Linked DNA regions of Homo sapiens: region 1 is linked to region 2. Evidence: fine-mapped expression QTL. A gene starts in region 2. The other region holds a variant in brackets. All regions are shown on one strand. Distances are between the middles of the regions.

Region 1 (8,360 bases), 21 kb after region 2:
TCATTATGGGGCTCCATTCTCATGACCTCATGTAAACCTCAGGACCTCCTAACACCATCCCATGGGGAGTTAGGGCTTTGATCATGATGCTCCAGCAAAGACTGGAAGTCAGAGAGAAGTGAGCCGCAAGCTTAGACGGAGGAACAGCAGTCTGGGCAGAGATAACAGCCTGTGCAAAGGGCCTGAGGCAGGGGCCAGCCTGGTAGGTGAAGGGACAGGGAGACTGTCTGGAGCTGACGGAGCAAGGCGAGGGCCTTGGCCGAAGAAGGGAGGGCCTCGTGGGCCCTTGTGTGAGACCCCCTCCCCAATGGGGCGGGGCCCTCAGGACCCAGCAGAGAAGGGGCAAGGCCTAGGCCAGCCCTTACCAACCCCATGGTCCTTGCATGGAGAGGGGACTTAGGGGCAAGGCTGGGGCAGCAGGCAGGTGAGGGGCAGGTGATCCGGCTCCAGGGAGGTGAGGAGGGGTGGGACTCTGGATCTGCAGTGAGGCGGGGACAGACTGGATTTCAGACCAGAGGTGGGCGTGAAGGAACCGTGGGCAGCTGAAAATCGGGGTTGCTGAGGTCTGAGCCAAGCCGGCGGGGCGGGTGCTGCCCTGAGGGGTCCGGCAGGCACAGGGGGCACCAAGATGCTCGATGGGCTTGAGTTGGCCATTGCACATAAACGTCTGGAGCTGGGTGAGGACAGAAATGATGATGACAGTGTGACGGTCAGCGTCGGGTGGCCATGGGGCGGTGCTGGGAGAAGTTTCCAAACGTTGCCCTCGCAGGCGGGAGAGACAGGAAGCCAAGCCAGTGGGCCGGGCCTGTCTGGGCAGCTCAGCCAAGGGCGCTGGACTCACACTCAACGCCTCAGCCGACTCTGCAGACAGAGGGTGCATTGAGCCAGGCGCAGCGGGCCTTCCGCCCACCGTCCGTGCCTGGCCATGAGGGCGCCCGCCCTGGGGCCAGACGCAGGCTGTGTCTCAGAAGAGCATTTCAGCCGCTGCTGCAGCCAGGGCCCATCCATGCGGTGTCCTGGTGGAGGGCCAGGCCTGGCAGAAGCAGCTGTGCCGGGCCCAGGACCCGGAGGATGCGGTGGGGAAACCAACTTAGGCCCCCATGGCACTGGGGGCGGCAGAGGGAGAGCCAGGCCCTCAGGCAGTGCACACCGGGAGACGGAGCGGGGCTCTCGCTGGGTGTGGTAAGTGAAGGGCCCGCCCCAGCACAGACGTGCTCCTCTGTCATTTCCATGGTGTGGGGAGCAGGCCCCGAACTGTGTGGGGTCAGCAGCTGTCCTCAGAGCTACCTTGCTCATCTGGGTGGGGGTGGGCAGCTGGTGGCCCTTCAGAGAACAGGCCGTCGACCCCAGCCCCGTTCTGTCCCTTCAAGCTGCACCACCCGAGGCTGGGGCGGCTCCACCTCAGTGCCTGGCCGGATCCTGAATGTGCCGGAGCTAACCCTGATCCCGCTGACCACTGTGGCCACAGGGTGGCGATGGGAGCCCTGCCCCGGGCGTTTGTGTTGGGAGTGGGAGGAGCAGTGGACGGCCCCAGGTCCCAGTGTCCTGCTCAGGCCCCTGATGGGCCCCACGTGTGCCTCTGGCCGCACAGGTTTCCATCCCAGGCCCCTGGAGAGCAGGAGCTTAGGGTGTGTCCTCGGAGCCCAGAGGCCAGGCCAGGGAAGCGCACAGCCCACACTCAGCCAGTTCCCGGTCCCTGCCCAGCTCTCATGAAGCTGTAGGCATTCGCCGTGGGCTGGTCTGGGGCCAGCGGGCTGGAGGCGGAAGACCAGCCTGGGCCCCCAAGTCCTCAGCTCCCTCTGCTCCTGTCCCCTTCCCCCCAGCTGCGTTTAGGAGCTCACCATTTAAACGGGTCACATGGACAGACTCAGGAAGGGGCTGCTAGCAGCCAGGCCGATCCAGGGGCTCCCCTCTGCCCCATAGGTAGCACCTTGCTGTCCACCAGGTGCCTTCTTAGCCGTCTGAAGCCCCCAGTGCATCCTCATCACTGCCATTCACTAGGTGGCAGCAGGACCCCCTTCCCAGTTGGGGGTGGAGGCTTGGACTCCATTTGGTGGCACAATGCTCAGACAGCAGCCCCCCAGCAAGACCCAGGCCTGTTCTCATCCGCAGCATGGGCCTGTAAGGGAGACCCTGAGAGACCCTGACACTCGGGCCCATTTCCTCCCTCCCTCATGGTCGGGGCCAGGCTCATATTTAAATCAGGGCCCTGCTGAGGCTGGGGTCAGGGGGATGTTGGCTGAGTGACAGCTGTGCAGGTGAGGCTGGGAGGGGCTGTGTGTGGGGCCCAGTGCCTGAAATGACCGAGTGACTGCCCGCCTGAGCCGGCTCTCTCCCTCTGTGGATGTTGTGTTCCCCGGCAGGGCCCAGAACCCAGGGCTAACGGTGGGGTCCGGGTGCACCTGAGGCCCCGGCACCCTGCCTGGCCATTCATGCTGCTAACTTTGACGAGTGCCCCAACCCTGGTGGCTGTGCTCCCTGATGCAGTGGGGCCTGGACAGGGTAAGGGGGTGTCTGGGCCTGCCCCCCGACATCTGCCTGATGCAGGCAGCCACCAAGCAGCTTCACTTTAGGAGCTGAGCCTCTCGGGGGGATGAGTGCGGAGGGGAACTGCCCGGCCCGGCCCATCCATGCCGGCGCAGTCTGATGAGGAGGGCGCTGAGCTCCGAGGCGTAGTAATGGGGCCAAGTCTGATGGTCTGGAGGTGCCAGGACTGGATTCTCAGAGTGCCCACTGATGCCAGGGCTGGTTCTGGCCCCGCCCTCGGACTCACACTGGGTGTGCGCAGGGCTCCTGGGCACAGCCCGTGTCCAGTGTGTCCACGGGTGGAGGGACGCTTGGTTCCCAGGAAGACTGGGTAAGGGTGGGCATAGGGGGGTGGGAGCTGTGGGTGAGCAGGGAGGAGGATGAGGGTCCTCCCAGCTGCGAGAGTCTCCCTGGAGATGTGCCAGGCGTAGGGACAGCAGAGACAGGGTCCTCAGTGTCAGCCTCGTTCCGCCGTCGTCCCCTCTGCCTAGAACGTTCTGCTGCCCTTTCCACAGTGGCTGTGCCCCTGTCCGTCCCGCCGCCTCCTCAGGGAAGCGCCCGCAGACCCTGGCTCTCAGCCACAGCATCGGGCCCTTCCCACAGGGCTTCCTGCCTGGTTGAGGACATTCCCCACTTCCCGGATTCCATCCC[AT/A]TTTTTCCGTTCGCCAACTGATTTCTGATCTGCCAGGTCTGTCGTGCCCTGGATACAGGCTCCTGAGAGTGCTCAGGGAGCGGCTGGGCTGAGGTAGGGCCCACTCTCCCAAACTCCCAAATCCTTTCGGGCCCCGCAGGGCTGAGCGACACCCGTCTCTGCCAGGGCTGTGTTGGGACAGGGCTGAGTGACACCCGTCTCTGCCAGGGCCGTGTTGGGACTGAGGCTTGAAGGTGGGCCTGGCTGTGGGGCTTCCCAGGGGCCCGGGACAGGCACTGGTGGCTCCGCTGAGTCTGCAGCTGGCCAGTGTTGGGTCAGGCAGCTGTGCCCCACCACCCCACTGCGGCTAGAGGGGATGGGGGTCCCTTGGGTGGAGACACGGCCAGTAGGGTGAGCCCCGGGCCAGGAGGGATGGACAGGAGCCCGGGGAAGGTCCCACGGCAGAGCTGGTCTGGGGGATTCATCTGAGGCCTTTGCGTCCCCGACCCTGGCCTGGGCTGCCCGCAGTGAGCTGGGAGTGGACCCACAGGCCCGCCCCACCTGCCTCCGGGGCACAGCATGATGCACCCTCAGGAGGGGGGATTGGGTGGCCTCACAGAGGTGACCAGGGGCCACAGGAAGGGTGATCCAGGCAGAGGGAACAGCAGGACTGACGGGGGAGGCCCTGTGTGCGGCAGGGGAGAGGCCTGTCCAGAGCCGGGCCCTTCCAGCACAGGGAGCCAAAGCCAGACCCCACCTGGCCCCAGCCAGGACGCGCTCTGTCTCGACACCTGTCCCCTTTGACTCTGACAGTACAGTCGGGGAGACGCAGAGGACACTCAGACATGGCGCTCGCCTCCACAAGGGGGGCTGGCTGTCAGAAAGCCATGGCCGGGCTGGTCCTTGGCCCCCCAGAGACTCTGGCCTGGCCCACCCAATGCGAGGTGCCAGGGTGGTGCTGGGCTGACCGGGTCCCTCTGTCTTCAGGGGCCAGACCCAAGAGGACGCAGAGGCTGAGCGCGGAGACCTGGGACCTGCTGAGACTCCCCCTGGAGCGGGTGAGCCAGGGACACGGGACCGATGTCAGCACAGCCGCTGCCAGAGCATGGGCAGCGGGGTTAATGAGGCAGAGCCACCGCCACCCACCTCAGCCCCTGTCTGCTGGGAGATAAATGTGCCCTCCTCGGCCTGATGCCCTGCATGGCCCATCTGCCACCTGCTCACCCATGTCCCTCAGCGTCTGGCCAGCTGTGCCCCAGGCGAGGCATGGTCCTCACACATTTCAGGCCCCCATACTCCACCCAGCTGCTATGCCACCACACCCTCGGGAGCCCACAGACAGGGGCACCCACTCCTGCCTGCTCCCTGCCCTCTCGGACTCTGACCCAAAGTGGGCACAGCTGCTGCAGGTGCAGACACTGGCTGGGGTTCAGCAGACCCACACAGACAGATTCGGGGGCTGCCTGGCGTAGGGCCCTGGGCTGGCCCTGTGCCTGTCGGCAGTGGGTGCTGTGTGGCCTGGGCCAGCAGCCTGATCTCTCTGAGCCTCTGGTTCCTCTGGTGTGGCCTGTGTTCAGTTGTGGATGGCCGTCAGGGTTCTGCTGTGGGGACGAGACCCAAGGACGCCCACAGTCACTGTCATTGCTGGTATAAGCCGGCTGACATTTGCGGGGGCCACTGGCCCTCAAACACCCCACCCTGCCTCTCCCGGCCCCAGCCAAGGGCCCACAGCCCCAGTCCTCTCCTCCTCTCTGGGTACTGGGCACCTACGGCGTGCATCCATGAAATGGAGGCGGCCTGGCCTTCCCTTCAGGGTCCTGGGATGGGGACATTGGTTCACAATTGCCCAGGCCACGCACAGCCTTACCCCTCCCCAGGAGCAGAATGGAGACAGCCACCATTCAGGGGACTGGCGGGGGCCCAGCAGGGACTCGCTACCCCTCCCCGTGAGGAGCAGGAAGTACCAGGAAGGCCCGGACGCTGAGAGGAGGCCCCGGGAGGGCAGCCACTCCCCGCTGGACAGCGCCGACGTCCGGGTGCACGTGCCACGCACGGTAGGCGTCTTTGACGGCAGATCCAGGCCGAGAGGGAGGAGAGCTTGGCAACTGCGCCCCAACTCCACTGCCAGCCAACGGGGCCAGGTCAGGCCCGGGCACTCCGGGGAGGCAGGGGTCCCTCCCCGGTGCACCTGGTGCAGTGCTGTCCTGGGACCCCGGTGGGGGCTCTGGGCAGGGCTCAGTGTTTAGCATTGTGGTCGCACCTGGCCTCAGAGGCCCCGGCCACCGAGGAGCCTCCTGGGGACTCTAGGCTGGGCTCTTCTGCATGGAACGCCCCGCCTCTCTTTGGGCCTCAGTTTCCATCTTGTTCACCAGTTGGGGGCTGGCTCTTCCCAGCCTTCAGGTGGCCTCTCTCTCTGACTCCAGCCCCCACCCTCCTTTGTTGGGACCCTCCAGACCCATCCGCTAGTCACAGGAGCGTGTCCCTGAAAGGAACTGGCTGCCTTCACTGTGAGAGCCGGGCTGCACAGATCCCCTGATGGGGTGCCCCTTCCTGAGGTGGCTCTTGGAGGCTCTGGCCAGTGAGGTCAAGCCTGTGTATCCTACCAGGGCCCTGGAGGGGTGGACGAGGCCAACACAGTCCCTGGGGGAATCCTGGGATCTCTGACACCTGGCGGGGGTCCCTGAGCAGAGGGGCCTGAGGGGCACCCAAGGGGTGGGTGGGAAGCCCCTAAGCCACACCCATGGTCAGGCCCTGGTGTGGAAGCACCTGCAGCTCCAGCTGGGCCAAGGTACTGGGGCCTCTCCTTGTGGGTGCAGGGGCCGGGGCAGGACCGATGGTGAGTGGGGTCATGGAGGGGATGCAGCTGGGTGGCCTGTGCATGGCTGCAGAGCCCCTGGTGAGGGGACAGCAAGGGGCTAGGTCCACTCAGGGTTCCTCCTGGTCAGGGGCTGGGAGGCCCCACCCTGCCCTACCCCACCTGGGCTCAAGGTCACGAGTGGAGCAGAGGGTCACAGCCCAGCAAGCAGCAGCAGCGCAGCCTGGGCGCCACCCGGGTCCTCAGGGCTAGCCAGGAGCCCCCCGCGTTGCTGTGGCACACAGAGGTGGCGGGAGGGGTGGGGCAGTTGCAGTGACTGCCAAGTGTATGGGTGGACGGACGGGGGACAGACAGACTGGTGGTCAGACTCGGGGTTGGTGGGGGGACAGGTGACAGGCCGGGCCTGTGCCTGGCAGGTGTCAGCTGTGCCAGGGCCACCCCAGCCACGGGAGAGCTGGTTGGTGTTCAGGGGCACCGATGGGCCGAGTCCGGGTTCGGAGGTCAGCCTGGAGCTCCCCCGAGCAGGACGGCTGGGTCCAAACCACTAGAAATAGTCTGAAATTGTTCTTCCGTGGGCACCAACCTGCAGAGGGGTGTGGGTGCTGGGCTGGGATTCGCAGCCCCCCGAGGCTGCCCAAGCCCATCCTTCCCACCAGCAGGGCACAGCCTACCTTCCCCTCATTCAGCCCCAGCACTGCCCAACCATCTGGGCTAGGTCCATCCGTCCACTGATGGGAGAGGTGTGGAGGGAAGGGCACCCAGGGAGCACCTGGTCAGGCCTTCCCGGGGGTCCCGGTGATCCCCCAGCCTCCCTGGGCCTGGAGGGAGGAGCAGGACTGGGACCCAGACACCTGCCCTGTCCACAGCTGGCCCTGCCCTGTCCACAGCTGGGTCTGCCCTGTCCACAGCTGGCTCTGCCCATCACATCTGGGCCGCCAAGGAAGGAGTGGGAGGCTGGCAGCATGTGTGGGACAGACCAGTCAGCCGGCCTCAGGGGCTGATGGCTTTCTAGAAAGCACAGCCTCTGAGGGCTTCCAGGCTTCACGTCACCCCAACAAACTGCCCTGGGTCTGGGCCAGCAGGGCAAGGGGACACAGTTCCAAGTGTCCAGCTGCCTGGCCCAGCACTCTGGAGGCCTTGGCCAGGGCCCCAGGGAGCCCCCACCTGCTGCGGGCCCTGCTCCCCTGGCCCCTGCAACCACCGCGGGGCAGGACGCCTGGGACAGCCAAGATCCTGGCCCCAGACAAACGGGGTTCCCAGGGTCTGTGAGGACGTGGCAGGGCCTCTTGGCTTTCTGCTGACCTGAACCCCACTGGCCTTACCGAGGTCAGAACCTTGGGTACCTCCGAGTAAGGACCGTCTGCACCCTGGTGGCAGCCTGTATGGGGACTGCAGCGAGGGTGGGTGGGGGATACATCCCTGGGGCGTCAGTGGCCGGGTGGGCCCCCTTCCCCCTCTGCTGGGGTCCTCAGGGAAGGGCTTTCAGCTCTCAGTTGGGGTCCTCATCTGCAAAGTGCAGCTGATACCAATACTGCGCCGTTGCTGTTGGTGACACCAATACTGCGCCGTTGCTGTTGGTGACACCAATGCTGCGCCGTTGCTGTTGGTGACACCAATGCTGCGCCGTTGCTGTTGGTGACACCAATGCTGCGCCGTTGCTGTTGGTGACACCGATGCTGCGCCGTTGCTGTTGGTGACACCGATGCTGCGCCGTTGCTGTTGGTGACACCGATGCTGCGCCGTTGCTGTTGGTGACACCGATGCTGCGCCGTTGCTGTTGGTGACACCGATGCTGCGCCGTTGCTGTTGGTGACCAACCAGCCCCTGCCCCTCCCCACCCTGTGCCCAGACAGTGCAGGGGCCTTGCAGCCAGCACATTCGGGGCTTTGGGATCTGAGGCGGTGTGGCTGGGTGTGGTCTGGGGGTCCAGAGAACTCATTCTGGGGTGGAGGGTAGGGGACAGGGCAGGGTTGGCCTCAGAGGCTGGAGACAGTGTAGGTCCAACCAGGAATGAGACAGAGAGGCAGCAACCAGAGGCTTGAGTTGAGCTGGCCGGGAGGCCCTTGAGCCAGGGCACTGGGGAGCCACCGAGGGCTGTGGGACAGGAAGGGCCGTCCCGGACAGAGGAGTCCAGATGAGGACAGCAACCCGCCCAGGTCCTCTGCGCCTGCCTCCGTAGTCAGGCTGAATAAAGAGGTGGCTTTCCCCACCTGGCCCAGCTCTGGAGGGAGGCCCAGGGGCCCAGGTGTCAGCGGGAAAAGGGCTCTTCGGCAGGCTGTCTGCCCACACAGCCCTCCAGTGTGCCCGCCCACAGGCACGGGGAGGGGGAGGTTCACTGCTGCACTTGCTGGGGGAGTGTTTACGGAGTGCGCCTGTGTGTGAGTGCGA
Region 2 (11,266 bases):
GGCTGAGCCCAGGAGCCGGGTCCCTCACGGCCAGAGAGACGAACTTCCCCGACATTCTAGACGGACAGGGCCCTCCCGGAAAAAAGCTCTCTCAGTGTTCAACGGTGTTTGTGCGTCAGCCGCGTCGGCCCCGGGCTAGGAGCTGTGGTTCTGCTGGCCCCTGCGCGCCTAGAGACACAGGTGTTCTCCCCGACAAGGGGATGGGAGAAAGGGGACAGCCTGGTGTCCACCTGCCAGGACCTGGCTAAATGACAGTGGTACATCCACAGCGTGAATTGGATACGGCCCCTGTTATGCTTGAGGAGAGTTTTTAATTTGTTTTTTGAGACAAGATCTGACTCCGCAGGATCACAGCTTACTGCAGCCTCAAACTCCTGGGCTCAAGCGATCCTTCTGCCTCAGCCTCTCCAGTAGCTGGGATCACGGGCATGTGCCATCATGCCTGGCTAAATTTTTAAAGTTTTTTTTTTTTTTTTTTTTTTTGTAGAGACAAGATCTCCTTGTGTTGCTCACACTGGTCTCAAACTACTGGCCTCAAACGCTGAGTGCTTCCCAAAGTGCTGGGATTACAGGCGTGAGCTTCTGTGCCTGGCCGTGAAGACCTTTCAGTGATGCATTTCAGTCCATTCCTGCTGCCGTAACAAAACACCTGAGCCGGGGTCATTGACACACAATAGACATTTATTTCTCACGCTTCTGGAGGCTGGAAGTCCAGGGTCTCGGTGCCAGCAGCCTCAGTGGGAGTGGGGGCTGCTCTCTGCCTCCCAGTGGGTGCCTCTTGCTGTGTCCTCTCCCGGCGGAAGGTGAGAGGACAAAGGGGAGGGGGCCTCGATGGCTTCCCAAGCGCTTCAATGGGGACCCTGGTGACTTAATCACCTTCCAAAGGCCCCACGTCTTATAACGATCTTCTTGGGTCTCAGGTTCCAACATATGAAGGCTGGGGACACACAAACTCAAACCACAGCAGTGACACCCGGGAAAACAGTTGTGACACGCTGTGACAAAGGAAAGCCGCAAAGCCACACGCGTGGACCTGATCCAAGTTACGTGATAGCGCAAGGGGGTGCATGGAGGACTGAGTGGGTGGTGATGCTGCCCCAGAGGCTGTCCCTGGGAACTGTGCGTGGGGACTTATTTGGGGAAAGGGTCTTTGTGGATGTAATTAAGGACCTCAACATAAGACCATCCTAGATTAGGGGTGGCCTGCAGCCCCTAGAGCTGACCTGGATGAGCATGGACCCTCCTCTGTGACCCCCAGATTCTGAGCTCTGGTCCCCCGAGCTGTGAGGAAACACATGTTGTTTTAGGCCACCCAGTGCAAGGTCATTGGTACAGCAGCCCCGCGAGACTCCTTCGAGGCCCACAGCTCAGCACAGCCACGTTTACCGAGTGCCCTCCGTATGCCAGCCACGGTTCTAACTGCTCAGCCTCCCGCAACCCTCGGAGGTGGAGATGGGCGGGGAACGCGGAATGCGCCTGGGCCTCACAGCTGGGGAGTGGATCTGGGATGTGTACCCCTGCACTGTGCGGCTTCTCTCCCCCAGAGGGTTTCAGACTTACACCCGGCCATCGCACTCCGCAGACTGGAAACTCGCAACTCAAACCCCTAAAAGCGAAAGCTGGGGTGCATTTTCTGTTTGCCTTGGAGGGACTCCCTAGGATTTACTGGGGACGGCCGATTTGCCCTCCTCATCCTGTTTGGTTTGAGCTGATGTTAAAAGACTCGCCTCCCACCGCAGACCCGGGGGGAGACCTGGGGAGCTGCCCTCGGAAGCTGAGCAGCACAGACTCTCCCAGGCATGTGCACCTGTCTGTACATGTGTGCATGTGTGTGTGTGTGCGTGTGTGTGTTTCCCTGGCACTCACAGCATCACCATCTGCCAGGCTGGGTGGGGCGCAGATGAGGAAGACCAAGGAAGTTCCACACGACCTGCCTCGCCATGATGAGTGAGCGTGAGCTGCCTCCTGTGTGCCCTGCCTGCCCAGAGATCCCGGGGACATCACCTGGCTGACAAAGTCTGCAGCTGCCAGCAGTCGGCCAGGAATGCCGCATGGCCAGGTGTCTCATACTGGCGTGGGTGTCGTGCGGCCTCACGCGGCCCTTGAGCTATTTCCAGGTGTGGGTATCATCTCCCAGCGAGGTGCTCAGCCCTGGGGTGGGACAGACCGTTTCCTTCTGGCTCCCTGCAGAGCTTGTGGGCCCCTCCACCCACCCTGCAGTCCCCAAACTCCAGGGACTTGGAGGTCCCCAAGGAAAGGACATGGCAGTGGGAGATGATGTCATGAGGGGACTTGGGCAATGGGGAGGAACACATGGCCAAGCTGGGAGGAAGAATAAGTTCATTCTCAGAGCAACGAGATTATGTGAACATGGTAAACCCAAGTGTTCTTTTTAAGTGAGATTACTGGGAAACAAAGCTGAAACTGTTCCTTCTGTGTGTGTGTGTGTGTGTGTGTGTGTGTGTGTGTGTGTGTGTGTGTTTGGGTGTCCTTCACTGTCTCCCTCCCCACTCCCGGCCTGCTTCTTCCTTCCCCAGCTTGGAATCCACGGTTGAGGCTGGTCAGGAACCATCAGGACCCAGCATGGGTAATGGCAGCTGCTGGTGCCCTAGCCCCCACTGGGTCCTACAGTAGCTGCTTGTTGGGGAAGGGGCCTGAAAAGGTGGGAGCAGAAGGAAGCCAGGGTCTTGGGGCCGTGGGCTGCCACAGCCACCACAGAAACACTCCAACTTCTCCCAGCCCTAGCAAACCAGTGGAGGTGTGTGCTGGTGCTTTGTTCCTGGGGTGGCTTGGGGCCGCCTGGCTGCCTCTCCCGAGCCTGGCCCTCACCCAGGAGGCCACACCAGCCTCGAGTGCCCACCTCCGTCCAGAGCCCCAGCTCCCCACTCCTGGGGGCTGAGCCAAGAACCCTGTGGCTGTCCCACCGTCGCCTCCCAGAGGCTTGTCCGGCGCAACAGGACAAGGAAGGACTAAGGCTTAGAGTCGGCCCGATCAGGTGACGCCTGAGCTGTCACCGCTGTCACCACTTACACACAGGGTGTGTGGACAAAGTGGTGCGTGCCAGGGAGGGCTAAGTGACCGAGGGCAGGCACGTGGCAGGCTCCTGAAGGTGGAGGTGGCGCTGACAATGGCCACCAGTGAGCAGGGCCCTGTGTGTGCTGGGGCTGACTCCAACCCCTTGGCGCTGCCACGCAGGGGCTTGGGAGGGCCCCTCCCCAGGCACATGGGAGGTGGCCCCTCCCTGACCACGGAGCCATCGTGTCTGCAGAGGCCCACCCTGCGCCCTGTGCTGCTGCCTGGGGCCAGAAGAATAAGTCGATGTGAAATGGCTTTTTCTTTCCTCACCCCCCTTTGGGAGTCAGGCCCGTTAGGAATGGAAGGGGCTGTGCTCCTGGTCCCCTGGGGGAGTGAGCTTCCCGGACTCTTGGGGGGATCTGGTAAGGTGGATGGTGGGAGGCTCGAGGGTGTCCAGAGCCTGATGGGAGGGGGTGGCAGTGGAGGGTCATCCCTCCAGGGTCTCCCTTCTGGATGTGGACACCACATGTCAGGCCTGTCACCTGGCCTTGTCACACTCCATCTCTGGGTCCCCTTCATAGGTTTTCTCGACAGGAGAATCAGGTCCCTGGATAGGAGGAGACGCCCCTCTGTGCAGTGTGGTGGGGATGTACCCCCAATCCAGCCAGGACCCACTGCAGGGGCCCAGCAGGGGCAGGCACGAGTGTGAGAGCAACATGACCCCAGCAGCTCTCGCTGTGTGCCAGGCACATGGACACGCACCACACAAACCCCACCGTGTGCCAGGCACACGGACAAGCACCGCACAAACCCCACTGTGAGCCACTAGGCACATGGACAAGCACTGCACAAACCCCACTGTGTGCCAGGCACATGGACAAGCACCGCAGAAACCCCACGCCTCAGTGACCCTCCACACCTTGCGGGACGGGCAGCCCTCAGGTGACAGAACCGAGGCTCAGAGAGGGAAAGCAACTTGTGCCAGGTCACACAGCCTCATAGCCCAGCTCGGCCTAACAAAGCCAGAGCCCTCGGGGGTGCAGGTTTCCCCACAAGTTCTGATATAATGTTGGGGCTCTCCCGGCCCAGGGACACAAGCTCCCAGCTCTCTGCATCAAGGAAGGAGACCAGGAGAAGCTCCCCCAGCAATGACAGCTACGAGGCTGCAAATCTCTCCCTCCCTCCACCATTTGTGCAATGTCTTTTGTCCCCACTTCTCTTCACCAGCCTCCCACCACTAACCCAGGGGACCCACAAGGGGCTCACAGTGTTGGTGTGGACCCTCTGTGGGCCTCCTGATGGCAGCAGCGCCTGGGGAAAGAGGGCTGAGCTGAGGCCTGGCACAGGCAGGGCCCCCAGCAGCCCCTGCCCTTACAATGGGATGCTGGCTCAGGTGCCCGAAGCCCAAAGGAGGTGGCCCGGAAGGTTGGAGCTTCAATCGAAGGCCTGTTCTCTGCCCGCAGCCAGGCCCAGGGCTGTGGCAAAGGAGGGTGGTGCCCCAGCCAACACCACTGTCCCTGCCGGCCAGCAGCCACGGCCCCGGCTGGAAGGGAGCAAGGCTCTGCCTGGCTTCTGTGGTCTTTGGGGGAGGGCACGTGGGCCCAGCAGGCAGCTTGCGCTGCGCTCAGGGCACAGATGGTTCTCATTCCCGTTGCCTCCCTTACACAGGAAAAACAAACCAGCCCGGGGCCAACAGACCCCTTTTTAACCTCGTGTTTATTTTCCTTCCCATGCTTGAAAACGCTGACTGTCCTGTGGGCGGCAGCTGCTGAGGGTCTTGCCAGGACGGCACTTTCCTGACCTCAGGGCAGCTCTCCCAGGGAGGGGCTGGGGTGCACGGAGGGGCCCCGAAGGAATGCAGCCCATTTCCTGCTCCTGGACTTCTCCGAGTCATACCCGGGGTCGCAGCTGCCTTTCAAGGGCCTGGAGTCTCCTGACACCACCGGAAGGCCCAGGATGCTGTCGGGGGCAGGACAGAACCCGGGGAGGCCGGCTGTGGGCCTCGCTGGCTGCGGAGAACCCCCCAAGCCATCGGGAGCTGAGGGTGGGTGGAGGGGAAGCCACGTCACACCACATAGGCCCACAGGGCTCCAAGAATTCAGAGGAGGAGGAGGAGGCGGTAGGGGCTGGGGTCCCGGGACCCCGGGTGGGCACAGCCTACTGTGCCACCTGCATCCTCCCTAAGCCTGCACAGTGCCCAGGAGGAAGGAAGGGGCAGGCTGCATCCCCATTCCGGGGGAGCTTGGGAGGGGAATGTGGCCACCCAGGGTCTCAGAGGTGGGGGGCTTACCAACCGTCCCACAGGCCAAGCAGAGCCTGTATTTGTCATCGGTGCCCCAGGTTTCTCTAAAGCAGGCAGACAGCATCCCCACGGCCTGCGCCCCATGGCCCAAGGCAGAAGTTTGGAGAAGGGGGCAAAGCCACGTTGGGGCTGCACAGAAGAGGAGGGTAGGACCCCCGAGGCGTAGGGCGCCCACCAAGAAAGGCAAGGAGGCCTCAGCAGCCCCTCCCCACGTGGGTGAGGCTGCGGGGCTCACCAGGCGGCCTGTGGATGAAAGGAGCCCAGAGGCCAGTGTGGCTGCACTGTGACCCAGGGACCCCCGCGGGCCCTCAGAAGTCCCCAGGGGACCAGCAGCAAGGCCAGGCCCAGGCCCTCTCCCCTGCATTCCCTGGGGTGGGGTGGGCTGGGGCCCACACCCCCTCCCCCCTCCCCCCTCCCCGGGGACTGCCCGCCTCACGGCGCCCCTCCCCCCGCGTCCGCCCCGCCCCCCGCAGAGGGAGGCACGCGGCGGTGGCCGCCCGGTCCGCGCCCCCTCCCCGCGCGGGCGGCGGTGACATCACGGCCACGGCGGCGGGAGGGGCGGCGGCGCCCCGCGCACATCACTTCCTCGGCGCCTCCCCGGGGGAGGACGGGCGAACGAGGCGCGGACGGACAGGCGGACAGCAGGGCGGACAGCAGGGAGGACAGCAGGGCGGGCAGGGGGCGGACGGCCACGGCGCGGGGGGCGCTCCCGGCTCCCGCTCCCGCGTCCCCGACCCATGGCGGGCCCGGCCCCGCCCGCGGCCGACGAGCTCCCGGGCCCGGCCGCCAGGCGCCTCTACTCCAGGTAGGACGGGCCGGGGCCGGGGCCGGGGCCGGGGCTGGGACCGGACCGGGCCGGGTCGGGACGCGGGGGAGGCTGCAGTTGGGAACAAAGGCAGCTCTCGCGGGCGCGCAGCGTGGCTGAGGACGCGCCCCTCCCTCCAGGCCGAGCCCAGCCCGGCGTGTGCCCGCGTGGGCGTCCCCTGAAGCCCTCTTTCCCCCAAGCCAAGGGGAAGGGGGTGGGGGGCCGGGGGGCTGGAGGCGGGGTGGGCAGCTTCTCCAGCCTCACTCCCCTGGCACCTGGCAGGGGCACCGTGGGGTGCTTCCCTCCCAAGCCTGGCCCTGCCATGCCCGGGGCACTCAGGGGCATCATGGCCAAAGAGACCTGGCTGCTCTGGATGGGGCTCTGCCCCTCACCAGCCCTCCACGAGCCCAGTGGGATCCAGCTGGGTTGGAAGGGAGCCAGCCAGGTGGGTGTGTACCTGCCTGAAAAGGCATCTACTCTCCGGGCACATTCCTGGGTGATCCCAGTGACTGGGCTCTGTGCCCCACGCCTTTGGGGATGACAGGGTGGCCCTGCCCCAGGTGGCATGCCTGCCTGGTGACTCCCAATGTCCCCCCAGGGGCTGCCCTGGGCCCAGCCGGGCAGGTGCCTGGAGCCCCAAGCAAGGCTGGGTGGTACCAGGCCTCAGGCAGAGCCACACGAGCGTGAGGTCCAGGCAGGGGCTTGCGAATGGGTGGCAGCCGTCAGAGGCAGGCCTGGCTCCCCAGAGCGAGGGACACTATTGTCCTCTGGACATCCCTAAAACCTGGTGACCTCCCTGATAGGGGTCCCAGCAGCTGATCCCGGGGGGCGCCTAGCCTGGCCCCCAAGGATTCTCTGGCCCCAGCCAAGCAGCAAGCCTCTGCCTGGGGCACCCGAAATGAGGTACTGGTGGCGGCACGGCGGACAGAGGCCTTGCTGCCTCCGGTCTGCTCTCTGCTTTGGTCCCAGACACAGCCCCATTGTGCCGTCCTGGATGGAGCGCTGAGCCCCTAGCCTGGCTCCTGGGCCCCACGCAGGGGAGGGGCGTGAGGGTGATTTTGCTGGCAGCTGCTGCCAGGGGCCTGCCCTAAAGGATTTTCAAGGGTTTCCTCCGCTGATCTGATCGGCTGTGCAGGGCCGCATGTGCTCCAGGGCGGCCGTGCTGTGAGGGGGATGGATAGCAGCCCTGGCTGGAGTGAGTTTGAGTGTGAGTGTGTGGAGCTGTGAGAGAGTGTGTGTGTGGAGCTGTGAGAGACGGGTGTCCAAGACCTTAGCCTTGGGTGAGGCCTGCACAGCTGACCATAGAGTTGGGCATTCTCCAGGCTACAGCTAGAAGCCTGGGGTCCCCTGGGGACACGCCAGGCAGGAGCCAGCCCCTGGCAGGGGCAGTGCTCAGGGGGACCACTCAGAGAGACCCCAGACCCAGCCTTGCATCCCCCTAAGCAGGGAGTCCAGTTGAGCTCCAGGGTGGAGTCAGGCCCAGACTTGGGGGAAGCGCGCCAAGCCCTCCAGCAGGGCCTGTGACGAGGTCCCCCCGGGAGTCTGCACCCCACCGTGTAGCCACAGCCCGGTTTGGGCAGGCGGTTCCTGGTCGGAGCTGGCTTCAGAGCATGGATGCCTAGACGTGTTCTGGGCCAGTGGAAGCTGCGGGCCAGACGGGAGGGCCCTTTGCTGTCATGCTGGGGCTGGAGAGCAAGACACGGAAAAGTCTCCTGTCTCCTGAAACCCGAGTGCTGGGGGCGGCCCACCTGCTGGCGTGGGCGGTGGGCATGTGGATGCCCTGGAGGTGGGCGGAATCCGTGTGGGCACTCCTCACGTGGCTGTACTGGGGTCCCTCAATGTGGATGGGGCTCCAGGTTGGCCCAAGGTCTCCTCTGCCCCGTCTACTGCCTTCCCACACTGACATTCCTTCCTGGAGAGAGGAGTTTCAGCTTTTAAAATGGGGAACTGTGCCTGGAAAACACACTGACAGCGAGGCCCATGAATGTGCCCATGAGCCCACTGGGTACCCTGAGGGGCCCTGGGTGCTGGGTCGGTGGGGACGGGCCCCTGGGTTCTGGGTCGGTGGGGACGGGGCCCTGGGTGCTGGGTCGGTGGGGACGGGCCCCTGGGTGCTGGGTCGGTGGGGACGGGGCCCTGGGTGCTGGGTCGGTGGGGACGGGCCCCTGGGTGCTGGGTCGGTGGGGACGGGCCCTTGGGTTCTGGGTCAGTGGGGATGGGCCCTGGGTGCTGGGTCGGTGGGGACAGGGCCCTGGGTGCTACAGTTAATGCTCAGAATTCTGGCCCACTTGCCAGGGGCTCCCTGGCCCAGAGCAGGGCTTTGGGGTGAAGAGGCCTGGCGGGGACAGGCCAGTGGCTGAGAAGGCCCCGGAAAGTGGGGAAACCCTGGGTGGTCGTCTCCTGGCCTCCCACCTGCTTTAAGGCCAGCTGAGTGCTCCCCGGGGCTGGGGCCGGGAAGGGGCAGCAGAGCCACCCACCTTGGGGTGACCCTGTTAGAGATGCCCTCCAAGCAGCAGTCACCAGCTCCCAGACAGGACGTCCTCAGGTGTGGACTGGGCCCCCCGCAACCTCTCTGGCCACATGGCCATGCTACCCCCTACCTTCACTCCATCCTTCCTCCCTCCCCTGTCCCCGTCCTGGGCACCATCCCTGGTGGGTCGCTGGGCAGCGACGGGCCCTAGGAATTCCTGGCAAGCCTGACCCCAGGTGCTTCCTACAGCTGGGTGACCTTCAGTCCCCTCTCCAGTGATTCCAGCTCCCGCTGTGCTCCCAGCCCGGTCCTGCGCCTCACTCTCTCCCCTCCCCTGGCCACTGAAGGGGAGTCGGTGTGGTTTTCCCTGGGGGTGTCTGGCTGGGGGATGGGGCAGATAGAGCCAGCTGTGAGCAGAGTCTCTTCAGCATCTGCTCAGGGGCCAGCATGTAGGTGACGGCCTTGGGGAGGGGCAGGTGCCAATTCTGTTAGCAGGGCTGGGACTGAGGGACACGGCTTTCGGGTGGCCGGAGGTAGTAGGAGTTGCAGTGCTGGCTTGGGAACTGGCCTTGGTGATGGCACCCCAGCCACCACGGAGGGTCTGAGGGTTCAGTCTGTTGACGAGGACTGGGCAAGGGAGAGGCATTCTAGGTCCTGCCCCGCCTTTGGCCAAGCTGTCCTGAAGGTGGACAAATGGTCTGGCCTGAGTAGGACCCCTGAGCCCACAAGGCCTCAAGGTAAGGAGGAGAGAGCCCAGGGCCTGAAGACCCCCACCTGTCCTTGGATTCCTGCCTCTGCTCAGACCCCGTGGCCGTCTCAGGGATAAGACCTGCCCCCCCAGTCCCCCGCCTCTGTCAGGTTCCAGCCTCCTCATGGGCCACAGGTGGCTGGAGAAGCTGGGAGCCCAGCTGAGAAGGACGCCGGGGGCTTGGGAAGTTTGAGGAAAGGAGCCAGGCTAGGGGAACGTGGTCCATGCCTCCCAAGCCCCACGACCTGGGGAGCGGCATCCCCCAGGCCCCACGTGGCCCTGACCCCGTCAGACCTGGGGCCCTGTTCGCACCTTGGCCAGTCAGGTGAGGGAGAGCACAGAGGGCCCGGCAGACGTGGGGCTGGCATGGTGAGGACTCTGAGCCCCCCCCCCCCGCTGCCCCATGCTGGCACCGTGGGCTGGTGCCAGGGAGGCTGGGGAGGGGGCCAGGTGGGGTCGGGTGGAGCAGAGGAGGCACAGGGGCCTGGAGAACCGGTAGGCGGCCAGGGGCCACCACTGCGCAGAATTCCAGCTTTGCCCAGCCCTGGGCCAGGCCTGGGGGAAGAGGTGCTGGGCTGGGGGCACTCACACACTCTGGACGCCATTCCTCTTTCCATTCACAAACGTGCCTGGCGCTCCCGAGTGAGCCCGGTCCTGGGGCAGAGCAGCCCCCGCTGGGAACTGGATAAACGTTTGCAGAGGAGTTGGCGGGTGACTGACGGGAGGGCAATGCCGCTGGTCCCAGTCCCTGGAGGAGCACGTTGGACGGGATTACCCCAGGGCTCCCCGCCCCGCTGCTGACGAGGCTGACCCAGCCTCTGAGCTGTCCTTGATCCCTTGATCCACGTCAGGGATTGGGGAGGCCCCCGAGCACCTGCTGGAGGACTGGCAGTCCCCCGCCGAGCTTTAAACCCACCATCCTGGAGGTCAGAGGGCAGGGAAGCCTAAGGCCAGCCCACCCCCCAGGACCCGTGGCCATGGTGGGGCGAGGGCTGGCTTGGGGGAGGAGGGCCTGGGGCCTGGCGATGCCATCCCCTGCTGGGGAGGGCCCGCCTCTGGCCCTGAGCTTGGCGGAGAAGGCCGTGTGCAAGGTGGTGTATGGCGCCCCCCGCCCCCGCCCGCTGCTGCTGCCCGTGGGCCTGGAGCTGTGGCTCTACGTGCAGAAGATGCGAAACCTGCAGAGGAAGAGGTGCGGCGGGCAGCGAGTGGGGTGGTCACGTGGGTGTGGGTGCCAGGGCGTGGTTGGAGGCTGTCTTGGGATGAGTGGAGGGGACACCCACCTGGTGCAGCTGCAGGTGGCTGGCTGCATTGCCTGGATCCCAGATTGGAGGTGCAGAATGACAGAGGCCCATCCGTGCACCCATCCCCGACTTTTAGGCCCAGGCCCTTCCCAGGCCAGAAGCCTCCTTCGCCTTGAGCCTCGGATGCCACGTCTCCGGCTGGAAGGGAGGCGGGAGGTGGCTCCCATCATCAGATCTGCGGAGCAGCAGCGTCTGGGCTCCACAGACACCCAGGCCTCAGGCCTGAAGCCCCTCTCCTCCGATGTTGCCTGGAAGGAGGGGGCAGTAAACCGAGTGAGACCACTTGAAAAGTGGCTGGGTGGGGCAAGTGGGCCTTAATCAGGAAGCCCCGTGCGTGGCGCTGGCTGCAGGATGGGGCTTGGCTGGTTGTCATGGCGACGGTGGGCTCCTGTGACCCACGTGGCATCCGGATGGCCATTCCCAGAGGGATGGGTGAGGTGGCTGTGAGGTGCCTGGCAGGTAGTGGGTGGGAGGGCCTGGCCCTGAGGTGAGAGGATCACTTGAGCTCAGGAGTTTGAGACCAGCCTGGGCAACATAGTGAGACCCCCATCTCTACCAAAAAAAAAAAAAAAAAAAAAAAGCTGGGCATGATGGTGCAAACCTGAAGTCCCAGATACTTGGGAGG

Evidence for each region.
Region 1: its variant is fine-mapped to the expression of GPSM1 in lung (TOPMed, PIP above 0.99).

The regions. Positions count from the first base shown.
Region 1 is chr9:136,344,553-136,352,912 of GRCh38, forward strand. It overlaps GPSM1 (G protein signaling modulator 1), which reads left to right. Exons shown (of 14, transcript NM_001145638.3): 10 at 4,145-4,215; 11 at 5,035-5,211. Among named protein-coding and RNA genes, the nearest start is that of DNLZ, 15 kb to the right of the region's middle. RefSeq lists enhancers at 382-1,035, 1,036-1,689, 8,165-8,360. The variant AT/A (reference allele first, on the strand shown) is at 3,178.
Region 2 is chr9:136,321,642-136,332,907 of GRCh38, forward strand. GPSM1 (G protein signaling modulator 1) reads left to right here and starts at 5,898. Exons shown (of 14, transcript NM_001145638.3): 1 at 5,898-6,122. The coding sequence starts at 6,055. DKFZP434A062 (a long non-coding RNA gene) reads right to left here and starts at 5,682. Exons shown (of 1, transcript NR_026964.3): 1 at 661-5,682. RefSeq lists enhancers at 2,275-2,901, 2,902-3,530, 6,060-6,589, 6,590-7,118, 11,176-11,266 and a silencer at 4,732-5,026.